Linked DNA regions of Homo sapiens: regions 2, 3 and 4 are each linked to region 1. The links come from fine-mapping of genetic effects on gene expression. A gene starts in region 1. Each other region holds a variant in brackets. All regions are shown on one strand. Distances are from middle to middle.

Region 1 (5,670 bases):
GACAAGAGAAGTGAAGGCTGGAGAAGGGACCACAGCCAGCAGAGGCCCATGCCTCCCTAGTCCTAGCTGGGCCTGACCAAATCCTCCAGATTTCTGAATACCTGGTTTCTGTTTGCTGCCTAGGATTCACAGGTTAGACAGTCCCTGAATAACCCCTGAAGAGTCCTTGCTGGCCATACTCCAGCCCCCGGTCCTATTTATTGTTACAGAATCCCAGAAGCTCTTCAATCTGATCAAGCAGGAAACAATTACTGTCAATGAATTCCCTGCCACTTTCCGTAGGCGTTTGGCGAATCTTCAGTGAGTCTCTTGTGGATGTGGCTCCAACATTCCTTTGCTGAATGTTTCCACTGCTGCTGTCCTTGTGGCAGCAGCAGAGGCTGGGGGCGGCTGTGACCCTCTCCTTCTCACATCGGGGAGTGTGGGTGGGCTGTGTACATAGGAAGTTCATGCTGAAGCTTAATTGAAATGAGCAAGTTGCTTCTGGGCCTCAAGAATAACAGCATTGATGTTCAGCTTAGATTTGAAAACCAAGTGCTTCAGGAAATTCAGTTCAGTTTTTGGTGGTTGATGTTTGGAAGTGTGATTGTATTTTTACTTCTCTTTCAGTATTATTTTTCCCCTTCCCTATAGCAACACAGATATAGCTGGGAGTCAAGAGACCATATCATAGTTATTACTCTCCCAACAGCATTCTGTGTCTGAACTAAGTCACTCTCTACCTCACTAAGCTGCAGTTTCACCTCCTGTAAAATGGGAACATGAACAGTAGATCTCACTGTGTTGTGGTGAGGTCGAAAGCAAAAGCGGCAATCGAGTGCTGCGCACAAGCAAGGCACAGCTGTTATTTCTTCCTTCATATCAGGCAGCACGCTACAATTCCTTAAAATAGCAAAGTTTTCCTTCCCTTTCTAACAGTTTTCACTTTGAATGAAAGGCTGGAGCTAGAACAACGTTATCCATTTGCACAAGGCGCCACAGCCCTGTGTGCCAGGCCAGGCAGCCCTGTGGCATTAACAGGGACAGTTAGATCAGAGTAAATACAACTGTGCCTGCAACCATTTTGCCATGGTTCATGTGCCTGCGCATCCAGATTCTACTGGGACAGGGGTGCTCCTGTGACTTCTTAGATTACTCTGCCCATCACAGATTACAATAGGCCTTTCCAGCTGTGCTGCAGGAAGCTAATTAAGAGGCTTTGCCTGCAGGGGTATGGTGGGGAAGTTGATCTAATATCTGGAACTCATAATCAAGAGCATCTGCATTTAAGAAAAAAACCCTGTTTTCCAGCTGGTCAGCACTCTTCTGGGCTCTGAAGGGAAAGAGGTTTGCTGTAAAGATGGCTCTTGATGGAAAGCCCTCAATACCTTTGAGGATCCTTCACTGTGGCTGTGCAGAGAGATGCCCTTACAGGTGACACTGTTGCAGGGCATGCTATAAGGATCTTCTCCTGACTTAGTGGCGAAGATACAGAAGAAATAGAACCCTCCTAGGCAAATTGAGGCACCCAAACATAACACAATTCATTGGCAGGAAAGGCAGAGAGACCAACGGAGAGGTGGGCAGAGATAATAAAAATGCCAGGTGCTTGCATTTTGATGTTGAGGCCTCATATCCCTCTCATCTTTCTGACATCCCCCCTCACTCTATTCTGCACACTGCCCAAGTCAAAGCTGATTCTCCCACTTCCAGAAAGACCCCAGGATATCCCCAGTATTCTCCTCTTTCCAGGAGGGTGTTGAGGTTGCAGCCAGGCCTGGTTTGATTTCACTCTGCAGGGTGGCCAGATGTGCTCCCAGCAGGCCCTCTCCGCCAGAGCCCCAAACTCCTGAAAGGCCTAGACCATAAAGCCACAAGTAGAGGAAACAAGAGCAACTATGCCCTACAAGGGGCAGCCTGTACCCGTACCCAGAGCACTCCTAGTGCAAGGAGCCAAGACTTTCAGGGCCTGTGAAGTCAACTCTATCACCCCCAACAATGAGTTTTGATTTGAGCACAGATCTGCCCAGTCTCTTGGAGGTTTGGGCATTGCTTGTGGGTGTGAACGCCAGACCCCGATGGTATTTAGGCTTCCTCTGAGGAGTCACTACAAGATTCTACTCATATATAGTTTTACCTAGTTATGAAAAAGAAGTTGGTGCAACCAGGTAGGCTGGAAGCTGCAGCAAAGCCTGGGTATTTGTGACGCAGGTATGGCCTGGTTTTTGAGGTAGAAATGTTGCCTGCCTCTGCCTGGGTCAGTATTAGGGCCACTATCAGACCAGACCTTCTGCTTGAGTTTGTCTCCTAAAGCCAACACATCTTCAGGGTCTCAAAGGAATTCCTGCAATGATAGTGTCCTACATTTACAAACCCAGCTATTACTTTAAGACAGACTCCAATCCTGGCTCCAGTGCACACTTCAGGACTGTGGGAAAGTGGAACCACTCAGGACTCAGTTTCCCCATTTGAACAGTGTGTGTGAGGGCCCAGTGCATTCTCCTGCTCTTCATCGGGCAGGACAAGAAGTGCCACATTGCCCTTGCTGTACCCAGAGAGCAGTGTCGGGTGCCAGCAGTGTCTGAGTGCAGGGCCTGGCCAGGAGCACAGGAGCCTGGGGCACCTTAGATGCTGCCACCGTGTGTGGCCCAGGTTCTTGTCTGGAGTCGCTGGCCGGGGGCCTGGCTGGGTTGGAATAGGTGTACTGCTGGGTGGGCTTTGCCCTTGGCACCCTCCCACGGTGATTATGGCCAAAGAGTTGCCATTTCCCCCTTTCTGCAGTGGCTGGGAGGAGAAGCTGAAAGCGCTGTCCGTCTCAGGCTCTTGGCCTGCGTCGAAAGTCTCTGGTCCACTTCCCCACTCCCTTCTACAAAGCGGCGGCCTCCCGCTTTCCCTCCATGGTCCTCCACCTCCCTCCCTCTCTCCTTCCACCGCGTGCAGGGCTGGTGTCCGAGCGCTCCATGCTGCAAGGTTTTTAGTTCGGGCTTTGTCCCCTGCGCCCCCAGCCCAGTTCAATGCCCCCAGCGGCTTGCGCTCCGAGCCCCGACTACCTGACCTTCCGCAGCCCCTGGCCAGGCGGCTCGGCTTACCCGTGCTGGCGGCCCCGGAGCCTGCTGTGCTGCAGCACCAGCTGGTAGGGCGACTTGGCGGGACCCGCCAGGGTCGCGGCGGGGCCCAGGGCCAGAGCCAGGGCGAGAGCCAGCAGCCGCACGAAGAGCGCCATGGAGCGGGACGACGCGCACCGAGCGAGCTAGCGACCGACGGGCAAGCGGGCGGCTCCAGGGAAGTGAGAGCGCCTCCGCCGCCCGGGCCAGGTTAAGTAAGCTGCGAGCGGGAGGGAGCGGACGCCAGGGGCGGGGAAGCTGGGCCGGCCCGTGCAAGGAGGGCGGGCCGCCTGGCGCCTCCCAACCCGTGCGCCCCTGGCTGCCCTGGGCACCCACCCGCTCCCGCACTGTGCCCGTGCTCAGTTTTCCCAGCCCTTGCCCTCACTGCCAGCCCTCCCTCCCTCTCTCCCTCGCCACAGTCTTCCTCAAACCAAGGGTATAGGTCCCTTAGGCCTCCTGTGGCTGCTTCCAAATGGGGACCTTGGGACTGAGGGACAGCTGTCTCGGGGGCTTCGGTCCTGCATGCTGGGGGCCCGAAGATTCCCTCACTGATCTTGAGGCTACAAAACACTGCAGGGAGGGGTGAGGGGAGGCAGTGCTGATTCCCAGAACACCATGGCCCATCAGACTTGTTTCTGCACCCCAGGAGCTGACCACCCTCCCCAGCTCCTCAATCTCTAATCCCTCCACCCCCACCCCACCTGTCATGCTCATTGAAAGACAGATGAGTAAATCGTGTGATCCACAGAAACGCCAAAAATGTGGGGCAGGTTTTGTTGGGCTCTAAGCTGCTTTTGGAGCCCGTGGGGAAGGGTGGGGTCCTCACCTTGGTACTAATTCATTCCCTTCTTCAGTAAACATCTCTGCAACAGTACCTGCCAGATAGATTCTGCAAAGGCAAGAGTCCTGCCCTGGAGGAGCTCAAGGCAGGTAAACAAATTGTCACATGGTAAAGAGGTGATACTTACCCAAGCATCTATTAATCACCTGTCAGTTACTTGGCACTGCTAGCCCTGGGGAGACACAGATGGATTAATAGAATGAGTGAGACCTAAGCCCTTTGTGAAAAAGCTCCAATTTGGGAAGATCCGTAGCCCAAGCCAATGATGTTCCATGAAGAGTAGCTGGGGCTTTGGGAGCTAAGAAGAGGCACCTGGCCCTGACAGGGTGATACCTGCTCTGAGGCCTGAAAGATGAAAATGAGTTAATCAGGTAAACTGAGGCATGCATTCACGAAACTCAAGTTATCTGGTTGGCTGAAGCACAGGGAGGTGGAGTCAAGGGTAGGGAAGAAGGGGAGGAAGGTAGCAGGGCCCAGACTCCAGCTAAGAGCCTAGCGGGTGATGGGTGGAGGCAAGTGACATGGCCAGTGTCATGAGAGGCTTAAGGAGGCAAGAAGAACAGGTAACCAGGAAGGGACCATGGGAGAGCTTGAACTATGGTGGTAGAGGCAGAGATGGGGAAGGCTGGGCAAATGTGAGGGGTGTAGGAGGTAATAGTCTCAATAGAATTTGGAGTCTGTATACAGGGAGAAGGGGAGAAAGGAGAGTCAAGGATATTGTAGGGTGTTTGTGGTCTGGACATTGCAGCAGGTGATGGTGCCATGTTCAGAATGAGGCACATGCAGAGTGCAGGCTTGCCAGGTAGATGAGTGGTTTGGGACACCCTGAGTCTGAGGTGCTTATGACTCATCCTGGTGAAGCATCCCATGAGGATAAAGCTGGATATGAGGATCGGGGGCTTGAGTGAGGGACGCGGGATGAAGATTCACACCTGGGAGTCATCCTCCAGTGACAGAAGAGCCCAGGAAGTAGAGAATGTGGGGTTGTAGTCAAGGAGGGGTATCCTAGTAGGAGGGCGCTGCTCAAAGTGAGGAATGCTGCCAACAAGACAGATCTGAATGGCTTTCACTGTGTCAGAAGCAGAGAGGCCACTGGGGACTTGGCTGTGGAGAGCAGATGGCCAAAGCCCGAATATGGTGGTTTGATGGAGAGATGAGTAGCATGTAGAAGCTTGTCTGAGAAGGGAAGGGGCGAGTTAGGATGGCAGCCAGGGAAAGAAAAAGACAAGCGGGGCTTGGAGAGGTTAGAACTCTGGTAGAAAGAAGGTGGGAAGGAGAAGGGAGAGAGTGTGGGCACTGGAGGAGGGCCTACTGAGAGCATAAAGCAACTGAGGGCCTGCATGGGGAGTGATCAAGCTAGTGGAGAGGAGGGAACAGGTGTATGGGAGATTTTAGTGGTAGCATTGATTAGACTTGGAAACCCCTTGGGCATGCAGGGTTAGGGAGGGGGAGTAGAGCTAACCTCGAGGCTCATAGCTGGCAGGAAGGGATGCCTGTGCTGGGCACGCTGGTGAAGGTGCACATTTGGGTGTGTGAGGAGAGTGCTCCATTTGTGTTCACATTATGTGTGAACAAGCCACCTGCATTTCCAGGAGGGATGGACAGGAGGGAGCTATATTCAAAGGTCTTGAGCTCAGGATAGGTATGAGGATTGGAGATGCAGATTTGAGTCACCACTACGAGCAGGTGGTAGCTAAAGTCATGCACTGGATGAGCTTCCTTGGGAGCAGGTGTTGGAAGAGAGGA
Region 2 (5,670 bases), 23 kb after region 1:
CAGTGTGGGAGGTTACCTGGCTGCAGCAGCAGGAAGCACACAGGATAAAGGACTCCGGCCACCACCTCCACCACCCTCTGGTGCCCCATAATCAGAACATGAATGAACAGGATTGACTGGCACTTGGGCCTTCACACTCAGTAGAAGCCCAAGGGCGAGTATAGCCTAGAGCTCTGAACTCAGATCAGATGGAAGTAAGAGGATTCCAAATCAGCTTGTCAGCACCATTCTTGAGGCCCAATCTCATGGGATCCTCTGAAAGAAATACACTGCCTCATGAGAGTGATCTATTCACCAAACCATCTTTCTGGAACTGGGGCCTGGCCCCAGGGTCCCTCGATAATCCCATGGATGTGATTCCTAAAATTCCTCAGAATATCTGGTTGACCCAGCATAGGTGAAAGAGAGTCAGATGTCCCACTGGGGAGACATGAGGACCAGGGCCCATATGAGTCCTGGTCTAGGTTTGGGGCACCCTGCCTCGCTGTCAATGATGGCTCCAGCTGGTCCCAGGCATCCAAGGGGCTTAGAAAATTTCAAGGAAGTTACCCCAAAGCACAGGGTCCCCAGAGGCATGGAGCCCAGGACAGAGATGCCACTTCCTGTGTCTAAAGATATTTGGGAGGAAGCCCTCCTAAAAGAGAATAACATCTACAGAAACAGAGAAGCAGAGTGGGAAAGACCAAGTGACAGAGACAATCCTGCCAACACTGAGCCCTCCATGCCAGTTGTGCCCTGGGAACGACCAGTTTTGATAGCCAACAAATTCTTTTTCTGACTTTAGCTAGTTTGTATTATGCCTCTGTCACTTGCAACTAAAAGAGCCCTGGCCAATGAAGAACAATTCAACGCTTTCAAGACCAAATTTGTGTCTTCTATCCTCATGGGAGCCACTCTGTTCCTCCCTGCCCCACAGCCAAGGAAGTACCTCTCCCCATGTGTCCAAACATGCACCAGATGGTGAAGCAGGCGAGGTTCCTCTGCCTCCTGGAAAACGACAAGAGTGGATGTATTAGGTACATCCTGTACATGAAGGATGGGACCCTGGTTTTACCAAAAGGTCTTTTCAAAATGCCTCCATGAACAGATTTGTCCCACCCTCCTCTGCCCAGCTCAAAGTACCTTAGTGGTTCCCCAATGCAGTCAGAGTAACCCGTGTGATCTGGCCCTAGCCTACACTTCAGCCCTCCACTCCCCAGTCCCCACTCTCCACTCCCACTCTGTGCTCTTCAGCCACTCTGGATTCCTGTTTCTTTAACAAGAAAGTTTAGTTCCACCTCTGGGCCTTTGCACTAGCTATCTCCTCCATCTGCAGTGCTCTCTCCCCTTTTCATTATTCAGATCTCACTTTAAAGCAGACAGAAAGGTCTTTCCTGATCCCGATCACTCTCTATTATCTTAAGTCTCTTAATGACTGCTACTATTTGATTTGTTTTGTTAGGTGTTTATTGTCTGTCTCCCCCTACATTTAAACTCTTGTGGGTAGGAATCTCACTGGTGTTGTTCACTGCTATATCCCCAGTATCTAGACGAATGCCTGACACAGTAAATGCTCAATAAATATTTATCAATTATGTAAACTGAATGCACACAGGCTACGTTTGTTGACTTGTCTTCTCAGGAATATCATCCTTTCAGCTCTTTAGCAAAGCCTTGGGCTGACTTATTTATTTGGTTCAACAAATCACTGCTGAGCATCCACTCTGCTTAGGTTCTGTCCAAGATGATAATGAGCCCTGGTTCTTAACCTTTGGAAGTTCAGACCCAGGGAAAGATAGACACTAGGCAAATGCCAGACAATGTGGAAAATGCTATGGTCAGGCTGTGCACTAGCACTGGTACTGGGGAAACAAAGAAGAATGTGATCTTTTTGTTGGGTACAAGAGTTCAGGCAGTGAAGTCCCAGAAAGCCACAGAGAAAGATCCTTTGGGACCTGTACACGTTCCCCTCTTGCAACACCTCACAGTTGGGAATTATGAAAGCAGTTCTCCCTGCCCTTCTTTCTCCCTAAAGTATTGGTATATGTGAGTGGGATAAGTGTGAGCAATTTGTCCTGAAAGGAGAGGGAGCTGGAACAACCAGTACTTGGGAGAACTTGTGATTATCCTGTTTGCGTGACAACAGCCAATTAAATTATTTACGCCTCTCAAGTGCATTTTGCATCAAGTAGAATATCTGGTCTTGGCGCTATTTTATAATCTGCTAAGTTAGCTAACTGCCCCTCCTGTCCTGGGTTGCGGCAAGGAGATGTCTTGGGACAGAGTAGAGGGTATCGGGGGGCTCCTGCCTTTAGAGAACTCGGGACGACAGGCAGCCAGCCGTGCCCATGTGTGGAGGGACAGAGTACAGGAGTCCCTGAGGTCCCAGGTCTTCCTTTTATTGCCCCAAGGGGGTTCACACCTAAGACCAGCCGTGCCAAACAGCAGGGTGCCACTCTGCTCTTTACCATGAGGCTGACTCACCTCTACATGTCAGACAGTAGAGAATGTGGAATTCTGAACAGAAGAGAAAAAAATCCACTTGGAGGCTCCAGACTAGGCCTCAAGGTCTCTGGAACTCAAGGAGTCTCTGCACACCCTGATGCATCAGGAGTTACTCACTTGTGCCTTAGATTCCTTGTCTAAACTTGGCCTAACAAAGGGATCATGGCTCATTGTCAGAATGAAGTAACGTCCAGCTCCTTATGGCTAAATTATGAATCAGTCATAAGAGGGATAATTGACTTCTTTTAAAAGGAAGCCTGAAATCCATTTTCTGCTATATTAGGTGCACACATACACAGAGGCAAGATGACTTGAGTAGATCAAATGTTTGTAAAGTGAAAAGTTATACAATGTATGGGCCAGCTCCTCTGAGGAAATCGAACAGAGACAAGCTGGAGAAGTGGGAATGGGGCATAAGAGACAGCAGCCCTCTGGGGGCACACGAGATTCTCCCTGGCACAAAGGCGGGACACTGGGAAGTATCTGCTGTTTCTGTTCCTTTGGCCCCTGGAGCTGACCATTCAGCTCAAGGTCAGCCAGTCCCTCATTTCTGCAGTGTTCCCACTGAATCACAGCAGC[C/T]GAGAAAGATGATGAATGTTGGAGCTGGAGGCACACTGGAAACTAGACCAATCCCCTCATTTGTAAACAAGGCAAGAGAGTTCCAGAAGGGAGCTCTGCCTCATCTGAGGTTACACAGCAAGTCCGTATTGGAGTCACGAAAGGGGAGCCGGTGTTCCTGATTCCCGGCCCACCACGCTCCCAGGGCACCCTCGTGATACACCGTCTGGTATTGTTAGTTATTTTCTATGATACGTGTGTCTGTCTTAGCGCCCTAATGAGACTACTCCCTCGGTTGCTTATAGCATTTTATTCTTTGTGATCCCCCGTGGCCCCTTAGTTAGAATTTTCCTCAAGACTTTAGTTTTTAAATGATTCTTGGTTAATAGCCTCCTACCAAGCTGCTCCCAACTTCTCCTGAAAATATCCAAGATGATGTTGAAAAAAGTAAAAACGTTATTCTGTGAGTTAAGATCAAGATTCAACCTAAGGCCAGGCAAGAAGCTGGATTGAAAATCTCATTTCAGGGCCACCCACACTGTGTGCCAGGGAACCTGCCCCTATAACCAGGAACACAGGGCTGTGCCATGCAAAACTCGGGTGCTTTCCCGGGGGGCCCCCTGGCTGCACGGGACCCCCTCCTCATGGCCTTGGAGATGCACAGGGAGGAACTATGGGTTCCACAGTAGCCAGGAGGAGAGTCCCATGGGCACGGCACTGCAGCCACAGCCCACGATGGCAACGTTGGAGGGAGGCATGCCAGGGCACTGCCCTTTCTACACATTCCATTTCTGTATCATGTCAAGGAGCTACATGGTGGGGTAGAAGAAGATGGATTTCAGTTTAACAGACGTTCAGTAAACAAAAACGTGTGGTCACTAAGAACAGCACTAGAAGCTGCACACCACAATCGGCTGCTCAACTGTTTATTTAACAAGGCTTTTGATAGACACCCAAGATGTCAAGGGCAGTGACAAGTACAAACCCCTAAAACTTCTCTTTTATAAATCAGTGGGTCTAGATAGACCTTTCACTATTTGAGGAGGGGTGGAGGGGTGGGGACTGGGGGGAGAAAATCATGAAACTTCTGAAAAAGTACTCAGGTTTGCAATTAAAAATGTTTTTAATGCAATATCTGAAAAAAAAAATTAAGTCAACAAGGAGCAGAGCTGACACCATAGAAAAGTGAATCAGTAATGTGGAGGGCAAGAATGAGATCAAAGGAGAAGAGCAAAATGATGAAAATGATGAGGAAGGACAGGATGATTCGGTCCTCCTTCTCTGTCCTGCTATATCCAAGAATTACAGAACTTCTGAAGAAAGAAACCCACTCAAGTGGGAAGAAAGCAATAATCAAAGATATCATTAGAGAAAACAGCCCTTAGTATGCAAATCGAAATGGCCCATAGCATTCTAAAAAAAATAAATTTAAAGGGGGCTGTCTAGAAAAGAGTTCACCGAGCAGGCCTGAAGACTGCAATACTTAGAAAGGCCTGCTACTAAACACCTGCTCTCTTGGAATTTTAGTTCATGCTAGACAGAAGGACCTACATGATCATGATCAGACCCCAGTAAAAAAAACTTGTGTAATGGGTCTCTGATGGGCTTCCCTAGACAGATACATCATGCATACGTTGTTTCATTTTTCTCACTGGTGAAGAGTAAGCTGTGCGTGACTCCTAATGGGTGAGAGAGAGCATGAGGAAACCTGCACATGAATTCCTCCAGACTGCCTGTGCCTTTTCCCTTCATGAGCCACTCATATATCCTTACAACACTGCTGTAATAAATCTTGGCTATGAGTACACTTTAAGCTGAGTACACTTTAAGCTGAGTTTTGTGAGTCATTTTAGTGGGTTTCCAAACAGCGATGGACCTGTGGCCTAGGGGATCCCTGACAGAGAGGCCTCACTGTGTCACAGGGGCTAAAACACATTCTAGCAACATATTTGAATTATAAGACTAATTTGTTTTCATGTCATGAGCATTGAGGGAAAAAAAATACCTCTTTCAAAGTTTACAAAATTGGTTGGCTTCAGACTTGTCCTTTGCCACCCTGTATAGAGCAGGCTTTAGAAAGTTTTGAAGGAAGAAAGTTAGGATCCAGTAATTTTGCAGCCTTATGAAGGCAACAGACAGACATTCTTAGACATTCAAGGACTTGAAATAGACTTATACTAGTGACTGAGGTAATAAACTTGAAGAACACAGGCCGGGCGCAGTGGCTCACGCCTGTAATCCCAGCACTTTGGGAGGCTGAGGCAGGTGGATCACCAGGTCACAAGATCGAGACCATCCTGGCTAACACCGTGAAACCCCATCTCTACTAAAAATACAAAAAAAAATTAGCCTGGCCTGGTGGCGGGCACCTGTAGTCCCAGCTACTTGGGACGCTGAGGCAGGAGAATGGCGTGAACCCGGGAGGCAGAGCTTGCAGTGAGCCGAGATCACGCCACTGTGCTCCAGCCTGGGCAACAGAGCGAGACTCTGTCTCAAAAAAACAAAAACGAAAACAAAAAACAACAACAACAAAAAGGGAATTCTGGATATGCAGCTCTTCTTTTATGGAGCATAGATCCCAAATTCAAAAGTCCAGTTGGACTGTGTTATCAGAGAATTCTGAGATTT
Region 3 (5,670 bases), 34 kb before region 1:
TTCCATTTCCTTGGTTGGGGCTCAGTGGTCAGGGCTCAGGCAAGGCCTGGGCAACCTCCTTCTAGCTTGGGCTACCCTCTGGCCTTCTGATGGGGTGAGGCACACCTCCCTCCCCAAAATCACCCACCCCTGGAAACACACAGTGCTGGCCCCTCAGCTCTAAGGGTCCATCCTCCAGATGGCAGCCCTAATGAATGCTTAGCCCGAGTCTTCATGAGAAAAGAAGGGGTATGGATGGTTAGGAACCAAAAAAGGGAATCTGACCTTCTTTGGTGGGAGGGGAAGGCTGCGCCTTGTCCTCAACCACAGGGAGGATTTCTCTCCAGGGAGAGTTTGGAGCATAGAGTGGAGCCCACATTACTAGGGGGTGGGGCAAAGTCAGGGCAGGGAGTGGCAGGGACAAATGAAGGGGAGAACTGGAAACACACATCTTAGTGTTTGGCATTTATAATGGATCCTGTAGTGATTTTTACTTTAAATTTAAGGGTCTTTAAAACTTATGCTGATCACCTCTTTGGTTTCCGAGGTCATCTTGGTAAAGTGCAGTGTGTGTATTTTAGGTGCTCAAAGTGAAGCATAGCATAGGATACCCAGCATGAGCAAGGCCCTCACTAGCCGCCCAAGCCCGCATGGCTGCAGGGGAGGTGGGAACAGCAGGACAGAGCTATGGGAGAGTGACGGGAACTGAATTCACACCCAAGGTTAAGCCTTACCTCTCAGGACACCTTCTCCCTTGGTCCCCTAGCCTGATGCCTTCACCTTCAGGTAAGTTCCTTCCATTCCTCTCATCTCTTCCCACTTCTGGGAGCTCCTGGGCATTCCTGCTTCCAAATCCTTCATTATCTGTCACAGAACCACAGTGCTATCCTCAGAGTCACTAAGAACACACAGGCTGTAGTGCCATTATCTGGTTGACAATTCTCTTCCCCCCCATCAGTAGAGAAGCCTCATGAGAATGACATGTCTATTCCCCAGGGTCTAACATGGGGGTGCACATAGGTAGCCCTCAACAAATATTTGTGGAACCAATGGATGAATGATTTTAATGGATTGATGTCATATCTCTCTTTCCTCAGACTGGAAGCTATTTAAGAGAGGGCCTCTGTCTGCCACTACCATTGCTGTATTCCCAGCAGCAGTGGACTGACCAGCAGTAGTGCTGGGGATATATCTTTGGGTCATTGGTTCCATGAAGTGAAATGAGCTCCGCCTGCTGGAGTGAATCAGCCTTGGCAGAGATGGGTGTGGGTGGGAAGGAGGTCTGTCCCATTCTCTAGGAAAGTGGGCCAGCCCACCTGTGGGAAAGACACAAATAAAGGCTCTCTGGCGCATTGATCCTGAGCAGTCCCAGACGGCAGGATAAAAATAAGGCCACCTAATGTTGTACCAAGCATTTTATATAGATCATCTCATTTCATCCTCACGATGGACCCATGAAGTAGATGTGACGGTCATCTCCCTATTACAGAAGAGGAGACCCTGGGAGGTCACATGACTGGCCCCAGGCCACACAGGTAGGGGGCAATGGCACCACAACCACATGATATCACCTCTCAGAGTCCTGAGGATATTCTAGATGCCAGAGATTACGGGAGCCGGGGAAGGAATCTGAATGTGGGTTGGCACAGAGGGGATGGGCCTGGAAAACCTGGACTTATGCTGTTGTCAGTGGTGGTCACTGAGAGTCAGGAGGTGTGAGTTCCAGTCCCAGCTCAGCTATTTTACGTGCTGCTGGTGGTTCTCCCTTCCCTGGGCCTTGGTCTCCTCATCTGCATAATGGGATTATGCTGGCAACCACTTCACAGGTTGGTGCTGAGGACTCAAAAGTCCAGCACACAGGCAGGGGATCACCATGCTGGAGGGAAGGTACTTCCAAGTAATAAGAGGAATAAAGTGCGGGGTGAAGGCAACACTGAAAACTTGAAACCCCAGGACCGGAGGAGGGTGAAATAAAAACCTGTTTGGCAAAGACAGGCTCAAACCCCCATGAGCTGTCTGGCTGTCTGAGGGCTGGCTGCTGGAATCTCCCCAAAACCATCCCTCGGGGCTCCTTTCTGAGCTTCTCCAGAGCAGAATTGAGGTGTGGAGGAGCATGACGGCCTCAGGTCAGCACACTGTACCATGCACACAGGACGTATGTTTCTTTGGTTTTATTATTACAAACACACCATGGCTCTGTCACAATAGGGAAATCTAAGCTCTACATACCATTTCTTTTCTACCTGGACAGGGCCCCATAAAAGCCTCCAAGCCACGTGTAGATGTGAGACACATTTGACAGAACATTTCAACTCATAGCTTATAATGATGCCATTTCTCCAGCTGTGCAAGGGCTTTACAAAAACTGTGCCAGGACTTCCCATGAGGCTGGATTGCTTGATTCATGTTTTATGAGCCCCACAATACTGAAGCTCCTTTTCCAGGGACTTGGCATAGGCAGTCAATTCCACATTTGGGATAGGTCCTCTCTGGAAGTGAATGTCAGGCAGTGACATCCAAGTTTCTGCATGCAGTGGGTTAACAGCCATGTTTAGGGGGAACATGATTTAAAAAGTACATCTCTCTCCCTCCTCCCCCACATGCACAAGGCTCACATCTCATTATGGTGCGGCCCATGTACATTAAAGTGTGATACTTGGTTTTGAAAACATTCAAACAGTCTCTGTGGAAATCTGAGAGAAATTGGCGGAGAGCTGCCGTGGTGCATTCCTCCTGTAGTGCTTCAAGCTAATGCTTCATCCTCTCTAATAACTTTTGATAGACAGGGGCTGA[A/G]AAAGAGAAGTTGGTAACGTCAAATAGGTGCAGATCTCCCCATGTCTGTCTAGGACACTGTCAGAATCTCAAGGACCAGGGCCAAGCAGCCTCCTTCTGCCATGCTCTCCTGCACATAGCAGGTGCTTTGTGGTTTGTGAAACTTCACTCTTTACTCAAGGCCCGATGTTCTGGTTTTCTGTACCTATCAACTTGGAACTAGATCCTCACCATGGGTTCCTGCCAAGCCCTTTGCAATATTCCCAGACTTCCTAAGCTGAAAACTCACCTTAACCCTAAAAGGTTGTTACTCTTATTATCCTCATCTTACAGAGAAGGAAATGGGGTGCTCTGGGTCTGACCCCAAGTCACCCTGCTGTTCTGACTCCAAAGGCCAGGCTTCTTTTACTGCACCATGATGTTCTTATCTATATACAGCAGATGGCAGGCTTGGGCTTGCTTGGGGGTAAGGCCTAAACAGGTCTGCAATGACTTCAAACCCAGACCAGACTCACCTAGTCGCACAGACCTCTGGGAAGCCTGAAAGAAAACACAAGGTGTCAGGTTTTCTAGTGAAAGTTATACCTGCAACTGCTTATGACAATGGCTTTGCCCATTGCCACCCCTACTCAGAAAAAATGCTGGGGCGAGGAAGAGGAAGGGGAAGGTGGAACTTATAGGCACCAGGGAGTTCCTCAGGTGGCCTTGGCAGACATAAGTTGTGCAAGCCCCTATCAAGTGTGCCTTCAGGTGGACATTCCTAGGAGACCCCCAAGCCAGGCTTTCCCACTGAGACTACAGCCTAGAGTTGAGGGAGCTGGGGCTGCACAGAGGTGGCCTCAGGAGTAGAAGCTCAGGGCCAAGAATCCTTCTCGAGGGCACTAAGGAGACCCCTGTGTACAAAAGTAAAGTGACACAGTAAGCTCCAGGCCTCTGGGTTTAGGATGGCTCCCTGCAGCCTCTCCTCTTGAAGTGCAATCTTTCTGTAAGGCACTTCACATTCCCAAGAGGCTCCACCTGACCCGAAGTAGCAAAAGAGCCAAGTGGGGCACTGAGCACTGGGCAAGCTGGGGAGCAGGAAAGGAAGCTCAGAAAGAGCCAGAGAGGGTTTGAGAGGGAGGTGGGGCTGGGGCAAGGAAGGGATGGCTCCACACACATAGCGAGCCCAGTATCCCTGTATCCAGAATACATACAGTGCCCAGGAGAGCCCCAGCCTCACCCAGGATGGGCAATGCCATGGACAGCAGAAGAGTGACCCAGAGGCCCCGGCTCAGGGCAGGCCTGGCCACTGTAAGATGAACTTGGGATGGGCTGCCCTCTTGGGCAGATGGCTTCCAGAGCTATGTCTGTTCTCTCCAGCAGTGACTTCCCCATGATCTGAGGCTCAGAGGCCTCGGTGTGAAAGCCTGCGCTTTGGCCCATGAAAGCCAGGGAGTTGCCTTGGTTCTTTACTCTGAATTTGACACAGGCTGGGGCTGAGGATGCCTCAGTGGGAGTGGGGAGAAGTTTTAAGAGAGCCCTGGGGAGCAGCCAAGGAAGACAGGGGCTGGAGAGGCTCCTCTATGGCCCAAACAGAGGACCTGAGGCTGCTCAGGCTAGGCGCAAACCTAGCAGGCATCTTACCCTGGAAAACGCTGATGCTTGTTTGAAGATCTCAAGCGCAGAGTCTGCAAGTTCATCCCCTCTTTCCTGAGGTCTGTTGGCTGAAGAGGAAAGAAAAGGCAGGTTTGACCAGAGTGAAACCATTAGCATGTCATTCATAACAACCGTGACTGAGGGGCACTGGTGGGCTTTCTGGCTCACATTTCCAAAGACATGTTTTCTCCATAATGTTTCATAACTCATGGTAGAACTTGGCCCATGGGGAGAGAGCACCAAGAAAGGTGAATGCACACATGAGGAGAGGCAGGACTGAGGTTCAACTGCACTGGAGGCAAGGAACATACACTGAGGTGAGATGCTGTAAGAGGAGTGCTGGGAATCGCGCGGACAGCATCCACGCGAATACAGAAAACTGGGCTGTGTCCGAGGGGAGCTAATATAGCTGGGCAACTCCGCAAAGAGCAATGTGTCCTCACATTCCTTAGTGTGGTGCATTCAAAACCAACAGCTCCCAATTCACTCTGCAATCAGTCACATAGGCACAGTTTAACTATCACAATTACATGTTATTCTCATCATTGTTTAGAACAGTTTTTCTTCTCTCCACCAACTGCCACATGAAGAAAAGGACTGGCTGCAGAGTCAGTGGGGATGCGACACTTACCTGGAGGCTGCAGAACATTGGTGATGACATGGACCACGCCATTTGTGGCCATGATGTCAGGCTCGGCAACAGGCTCCTTGTTGACACTCACCACATTGTTTTTCTAAAAGAAAAACAGAGTAGTGGTTGAAAGTAGAGCATTTATTTATACATTTATATATTTATTTTATTCATTCAGCAAGTGTTTACTGAACAGTTTTCGTTTTTTTCCTTGTTCTTTGTTTTTGAGATGGAGTTTCAATCTTGTCGCCCAGGCTGGAGTGCAGTGGCATGATCTCGACTCACTGCAACCTCCGCCTCCTGGGTTCAAGTGATTCTCCTGCCTCAGCCTCCAGAGTAGCTGTGATTACAGGCATGTGCCACCACGCCCAGCTAATTTTGTATTTTTAGTAGAGATGTGGTTTCACCACGTTGGCCAGGCTGGACTTGAACTCCTGACCTCAGATGATCCGCCCACTTTGGCCTCCCAAAGTGCTGGGATTACAGGCATGAGCCACTGCACCCGGCCTACTGAACACTTTTCATATGCCAAGTCCTGTGTTAGACTGGGGATACTCTGGTGAATGAAACAGTCCCTGCCCTTGACAGACCTTCAGTGTGGTGGATTAATTCAAATCTCCTGTGTGGATTTAGCACTTTGCAATTTACATAAT
Region 4 (5,670 bases), 31 kb after region 1:
GGGCAGAGAAAAGCCACAGAGGAAGGAATGAGGGAGGCCATAGTTCTCAGAGTGTCGGAGGAGTTGATGCAATAATAATTCAATTCCCCCTACTCTGAAAAGCAAGGCAGTCCAACCCGGCAGGATGCCTGCAGCCAGGGCTGTAAACTCCAGCTCACCTCAGGCTACCTCCAGCTGAGCAAGCCCACACCAGAACCTGTGGGCCTGAACTCTTGCAGGGGAAGAGTTCAAACAGGGCCTTTTCCAGTTTGCATCATGTGGCAGAGCCCTGTAGCCAATCAGCTGGAAGCGAGTTCCAGGTAGGTGGGATGGGAAGGATCTGGACTGGGGGGCCTCCTCACAAGGGAATCATCATGGACACTGGCAACTAGGGGGTAGCTCCTCTGGCCAGTGTAGTTCTTTCTTCCCTTTGCCTGGGTAGAAGCATGGACTTTGAAGCCAGCTGTCTGGGACCCTATCCCAGTTCTCTGCTTACTTGCTGTGTACCTTAGGTGAACTGCTTTAACTTTCTGAGCCCCTGCTTCCTCATCCGAATTGTGGGCATGAGACTAGTGTTACCCAACAGGAAATATGAAGACTGCAGGAGATAATCCATAGGAAGTGTCTACGCTGTGCTTGGGTCATGGAAAGTGCTCATTAACTGTTAGTTATTATTATTATTATAATTGCCAGATTCTCTCTGTGTCTTATTTCCTCTTTAAACCATGGCATAATTTACACTATGACACGCTCTTGTGCATAATTTCTTCTCATAGTCCTAACCAGTTGTAGTCTCTGCTTGAGGGTGATCTATGCCTGTGTACCCTCTATCGGTCCCCCTGGCAGTCACCATCCCTCTGGACAAAAATTTGCGTGGTCTTTGGAATGAGTCTGGGTAATTGAGTGGCAGCCAACCTCTGCCAGCATCCTCCCTCATCGGGAGACTGTGGAGCAGGGGCAATGGTCTCCTGAGCCAAAGAACAGCTTGCAGATGGCCCCAGTGAGAAGTGCCACTCTGAAGCCCTAAAAGATGATAAGGGAGAGTAGGAGAAGCAAGCCCAGAGAAGAAAGAAAGTGGAGAATGGTCCCCAGAGGAAGGGAGGCAAACAGGGAGCAACAGTTACACAGGTGACTGCAATGTGAGAAGCATCCAAGAACGGACAGAGTTTCAAAATGCTCAGGAAAAAGCAAGGTGCAGTCTTCTGGATGTGGTGGCAGAAAAGACCCCAAGAGAAAGACATCATCAACATAAAAGCCTGGAAAAAATAGGGATCATAAAGATGCCTGTGTGACTGACAAACAAATTAGAGGTGTAGGAAAAGAAAAGAGCGGGAATGGCAGGTTGCAGGTAATTGAGATTTTTCAGAACAAGATGACAAGTAAACTACATCAAAGCATGTCCAAGTCAGGTTTGACTGGCAGTTTTCCCTGAATGTGCTAATTACTCTTATTTGTTCTCAAACAAAAATTATTTATTTATCATGAGGGCTGAGGGCCCAGGGTGTGGGAGAGCATCTTCTCTCAGCAAGCAGGTGAGTAGCTCAGTTTGAATGACGGAAGATACATGACTATAGAGCAACACAGTCACTTTTCATCAAGATTGAACCCTATGGCTATATCTTTGAGAAGCCACTGCATCAAAGACCTGGCTCAGATAAGAGTTTCCGGAGAAAAAGAGAAGGTGGCAGCCAGAATAACTGTGATACTGTCCTTTTTGTACCAGCCAGGATAGGCTAGGTGATGCTGCAGTAACAAACAATCCTAAATCTTAGGGGCTTTAAACAACAAAGATTTATTTCTGTCATCTGTGCCACAAGTCCATTTCGGGTTGGCTGGAGTTCTGTTCTGCATCCCTTCAGGGACCCAGGATAATGAAGCAGCCACCGTCTCAAACTGCTAGTCACTATAGCAGAGGACAAGGGAGTTGAGACAACACACACACTCACACACACACACACACACACACACACACACGGGCTCTTAAAACTTCAGCTCAGAATGATAGACATCATCCCTGCTCAGATTTCACCAGCCACAGTCAGGCACATGCCTATACTGAATTGCAAAGGGGATGGGGAAGTAAAATCCCACTTCCGCTGCTCAGAAGAAGAAACAGAATGTATGTGAACAGCCCTAATGACTCACCAAACATCCATTCCAGGAGCAGGCCTCCCTGCCCGTTACTCAGCTGCCCCTCCCTTGGCCTGCGACCCCTTCAGTGGTTCTCAGTCATCTCTGCCCCTGTCCCCATCACTATCTTCAAGGCACATTTTGGATGAGATGATTGGGCATAGTGCTTCCAAATGGACTCTAATCATAAAATGAAGGAGAACACAGACTCAGAGTATTGGTGCAGAGCAGAATCTCTGAGAGGACCTAGCCCACAGCCCCTGCCTTTCTAGATGGAGAAATAGGAAGTCAAAGGAAAAACCATGTGCAATGCGCAGAATTCTAAGATGGGTCCTAAGATTCCTGGTCCCTGCTGTGCAGGCATCATCTCCTCCCTTTGAGTGTAAGTGGGAC[C/T]CGTAAATAAGACTGGCTGTCACTCCAGTGACATGTTACTTTGTATGGCAAAAGGGACTTTGCAGATGTAATTCAGGCACTCTCCTGCTGGCCTGAAGGAAAGTAAACAGCCATGCTGTGAACTTCCCGTGGAGGGGACCTGCACGGCCCTCTAGGACCTGAGCGCAGCCCCTAGATTGGCTAGAAAATGGGACCTCAGCCCTACAACTGCAGGAACTGAATTCTGATTACCGGGAACCCTGAGCTCCAAATGAAAACATAGCCCTGGTTAACACTTTGATTTCAGCCTGATGAGATTGTGAGCTGAGAACCCATCTCCTCTATGTCCAGACTCCTGACCCATGGAAACTGTGAGATTAAACAAAAAAAGCCACTGTATTGTTTTAAGCCACTAAGTTGAAGGTAATTTGTTACCCAGCAATAAAAACAAGTATGTGAAAATGGGAGACTGTGTAGCAGGGCCATGGTCTCCTGAGCCGAAGAACAGCTTGCAGATGGCCCCAGTGAGAAGTGCCACTCTGAAGCCCTAAAAGATGATAAGGGAGAGTACGAGAGACAAACACCTCTAATTTGTTTGTCAGTCACACTGGCATCTTTATGATCCCTATTTTTTCCAGGCTTTTATGTTGATGATGTCTTTCTCTTGGGGTTTTTCTGCCGCCACATCCAGAAGACCGCACCTTGCTTTTTCCTGAGCATTTTGAAACACTGTCTATTCTTGGATGGCTTCTTACATTGCAGTCACCTGCGTAGCTGTTGCTCCCTGTTTGCCTCCCTTCCTCTGGGGACCATTCTCCACTTTCTTTCTCCTCTGGGCTTGCTTCTCCTACTCTCCCTTGTCATCTTTTAGGGCTTCAGAGTGGCACTCATCATGGCAGTGGCAGGTCCTGCAATTTGAGCAGTATTCAAGGCCTTTTCGTGATTTCTGTCCCACTTGCTGAACACAAACTCTCTATTCCAGGTCTGGCGGCATCTTTGCAGCCTCTCACCTGCCAGGATTGCTCCCCCTGTGGTCTTCCTCTGCCTGCTTCCCAGGGCAGGGCTCCATCCAGCGTCATTTGATGGAGCTTTCACATGCCATTCCCCAATAAAATAAAATGCCCTGAAGTGACCCCGGCCCCCTGTACTCTTCCATTCTCTGCCGGTTCCATAGCATCCAGCACAACTACAAGCCTCCCTGCAGTTGATTATATCCCAATCATATCCAATAATAAAATTCCACGAGGATTAAATCATTTAAATTGTCTCTTTTTGCCAAGACTTTAAGCTCTCTAAGGGCAACAGACGTGTTTACTCCAGGTGCTACATCAGGAATCAGAAAAGGCATTTGTACTTGTAATACACCAAACTGGAAACAGCCCAAATGTCTATCACTGAGTGAAGAGAGAAACAAATTATCTTATTTCCATACAATGAGATACTGCTCAGCTAAAAAAAAGAACAAATTATCCATAACATGCTATAACATGGGTGAATCTCAAAATCGTAGGCTGAGTGTAAGATATAAATGATATCTACTGTATGATAATTTACATAAAAATCTAGACAAAGCAAAACTCATCTATATTGACAGGAAGCAGGTGGGTGTTTGCTCATGGCTGGGGTTGGGGGGATAATGGCAAACGTTGCATTCTGGGGTGATGGAGATGTTCTGTGTCTTGATTGTCGTGGCGGCTATGTGGATGTACACGTTTGTCACAACTCATCAGATTGTATACTTAAAATATATACATTTTATTACACATAAATTATGCCTCAATAAAGTTGACTTGGAAAAAAATCTTTGTATATTCTGAGTCAGCTAAAGCTTTGTTGGAAATGCTTTGAGACATGATTTCTCATGTCTCATGATTTCTCAACATGATTTGAGAAGGGTGAGCCCAAGAAAACATCTACAGACTTCTGTTTAGGTAGAGCCATCTCCCAGAGACAGATGAGCTCCCAGGCTGAGAGCAAAGATATGCCTCAAAAGGTAAGTTAACCGACTTAAAGAGAGATTGCTTGGCCAGAAAAACCCAGAAAAAGAACAGAGAGGATGGCAAAAAGGACCCATGTATTCAGGCGGAAAGGCCTAGATTGGGGGGTTCAAGGATAGTCTGGCTGTGAGCTCTCCCCATGCTGTGTGGTGGGGTGGAGCTCTTTCAGCGGTCTCACCATGGCCCAGAGAAAGAGCTTTTGGGACCAGCCACACTGCTTTGCTCTGAATCCACAGCCACTCCACTGGCCACCAGCCTGATTAACTTCTAGGGAAGCCGGGTCCTGGGAAGAAGGCATGAAGTTTCTAACAAATATGAAGGCATCATCATCTGGATGAAGTGTCAGAGGACCATAGTCCAGGCAATGCTGCCTGCTGTGGCTTTTGATTAGTCAGGCATGACCCATTCCTCCCACTGTCACTCAAGACACTGCCCGGAGAGACAGGCACAGCCAGGGCAGCAGCCAGAATGCTGAGGATTTTGTGGGTTACCTAAAGCTGTGGAGAAGCCAGCAGGGCTCCAGACCTGGAGAGAGCCCCATAAAAAGAAAACATTCCCTTCTTTGGTAGAAAAGAAATGATACCCGAGCAGCTAGCAACCCTGACTGTGCAGAGGCAAAAACCAAGTTCTGAGGTAGGAAAAGAAAGTGTTTGTGTGAAAAGCCCGGGGGCTTGGAAGAGCCTCGGAAATGAAACAGGAAAGGAGGGAAGAGAACAGGAAAGCTCAGCTGGCTGCTGTGGGGCTCAGTGGCGAGGCATGAGCAGCAGCAGAGGCTGAAAGGGGCAGAGAGGGTGCTCACAAGGAAAGGCAAGGGGAGGAGAGCTCTGCAGTCTTAATGGGGGCATGGGGGTTGTGTGTACAATGGCTGCAGGGTGGACCCTCCTCTTGACCAAACCCCAAGTGCCCTCCGTCCCCCTGAATTCCAAGCATGATTATCAGCACTACTTTCCACTGGAGTCACCCAGCCCAACACTTGTGCGCACTGCCCTGACTCCAGCACTCCATAACCCAGCCGTCTAGACTCTGCAGTCTTCTGGCCCTAAGTCAGGGGTTGTCCACTCCTCTCTGGGGAGATGACTAGAACCTCTTAATTAGCTTCTCTCCCTCCCCACTTGTTAAACCTTATCAGCAGGTACTCCATCATGGAGAAGGAAACCAGTGCATGTTAAGCATTTATTATCCTAGGCATTTT

Direction of the effects. Positions count from the first base shown, and alleles are read on the strand shown. Sizes are in standard deviations (SD) of each study's normalised expression. Not every link is listed here.
For the expression in skeletal muscle of the gene that starts at base 3,270 in region 1, C is the low allele of the variant in region 2 and T is the other (small effect, 0.36 SD a copy in GTEx).

What was found. PIP is the estimated chance that this variant, and not a neighbour inherited with it, causes the effect.
Region 2: its variant is fine-mapped to the expression of TGFBI in skeletal muscle (GTEx, PIP above 0.99).
Region 3: its variant is fine-mapped to the expression of TGFBI in whole blood (INTERVAL, PIP above 0.99).
Region 4: its variant is fine-mapped to the expression of TGFBI in whole blood (INTERVAL, PIP above 0.99).

Annotation. Positions count from the first base shown.
Region 1 is chr5:136,026,588-136,032,257 of GRCh38, reverse strand. It overlaps TGFBI (transforming growth factor beta induced), which reads right to left and starts at 3,270. Exons shown (of 17, transcript NM_000358.3): 1 at 3,069-3,270. The coding sequence starts at 3,202. RefSeq lists an enhancer at 984-1,053.
Region 2 is chr5:136,003,792-136,009,461 of GRCh38, reverse strand. No RefSeq gene overlaps it. Among named protein-coding and RNA genes, the nearest start is that of TGFBI, 22 kb to the left of the region's middle. The variant C/T (reference allele first, on the strand shown) is at 3,064.
Region 3 is chr5:136,060,284-136,065,953 of GRCh38, reverse strand. TGFBI (transforming growth factor beta induced) reads right to left here. Exons shown (of 17, transcript NM_000358.3): 14 at 5,018-5,120; 15 at 4,375-4,454; 16 at 3,267-3,291; 17 at 2,136-2,768. The coding sequence ends at 2,728. Among named protein-coding and RNA genes, the nearest start is that of TGFBI, 34 kb to the right of the region's middle. RefSeq lists a silencer at 3,177-3,276. The variant A/G (reference allele first, on the strand shown) is at 2,773.
Region 4 is chr5:135,995,991-136,001,660 of GRCh38, reverse strand. No RefSeq gene overlaps it. Among named protein-coding and RNA genes, the nearest start is that of TGFBI, 30 kb to the left of the region's middle. RefSeq lists an enhancer at 1-295. The variant C/T (reference allele first, on the strand shown) is at 2,503.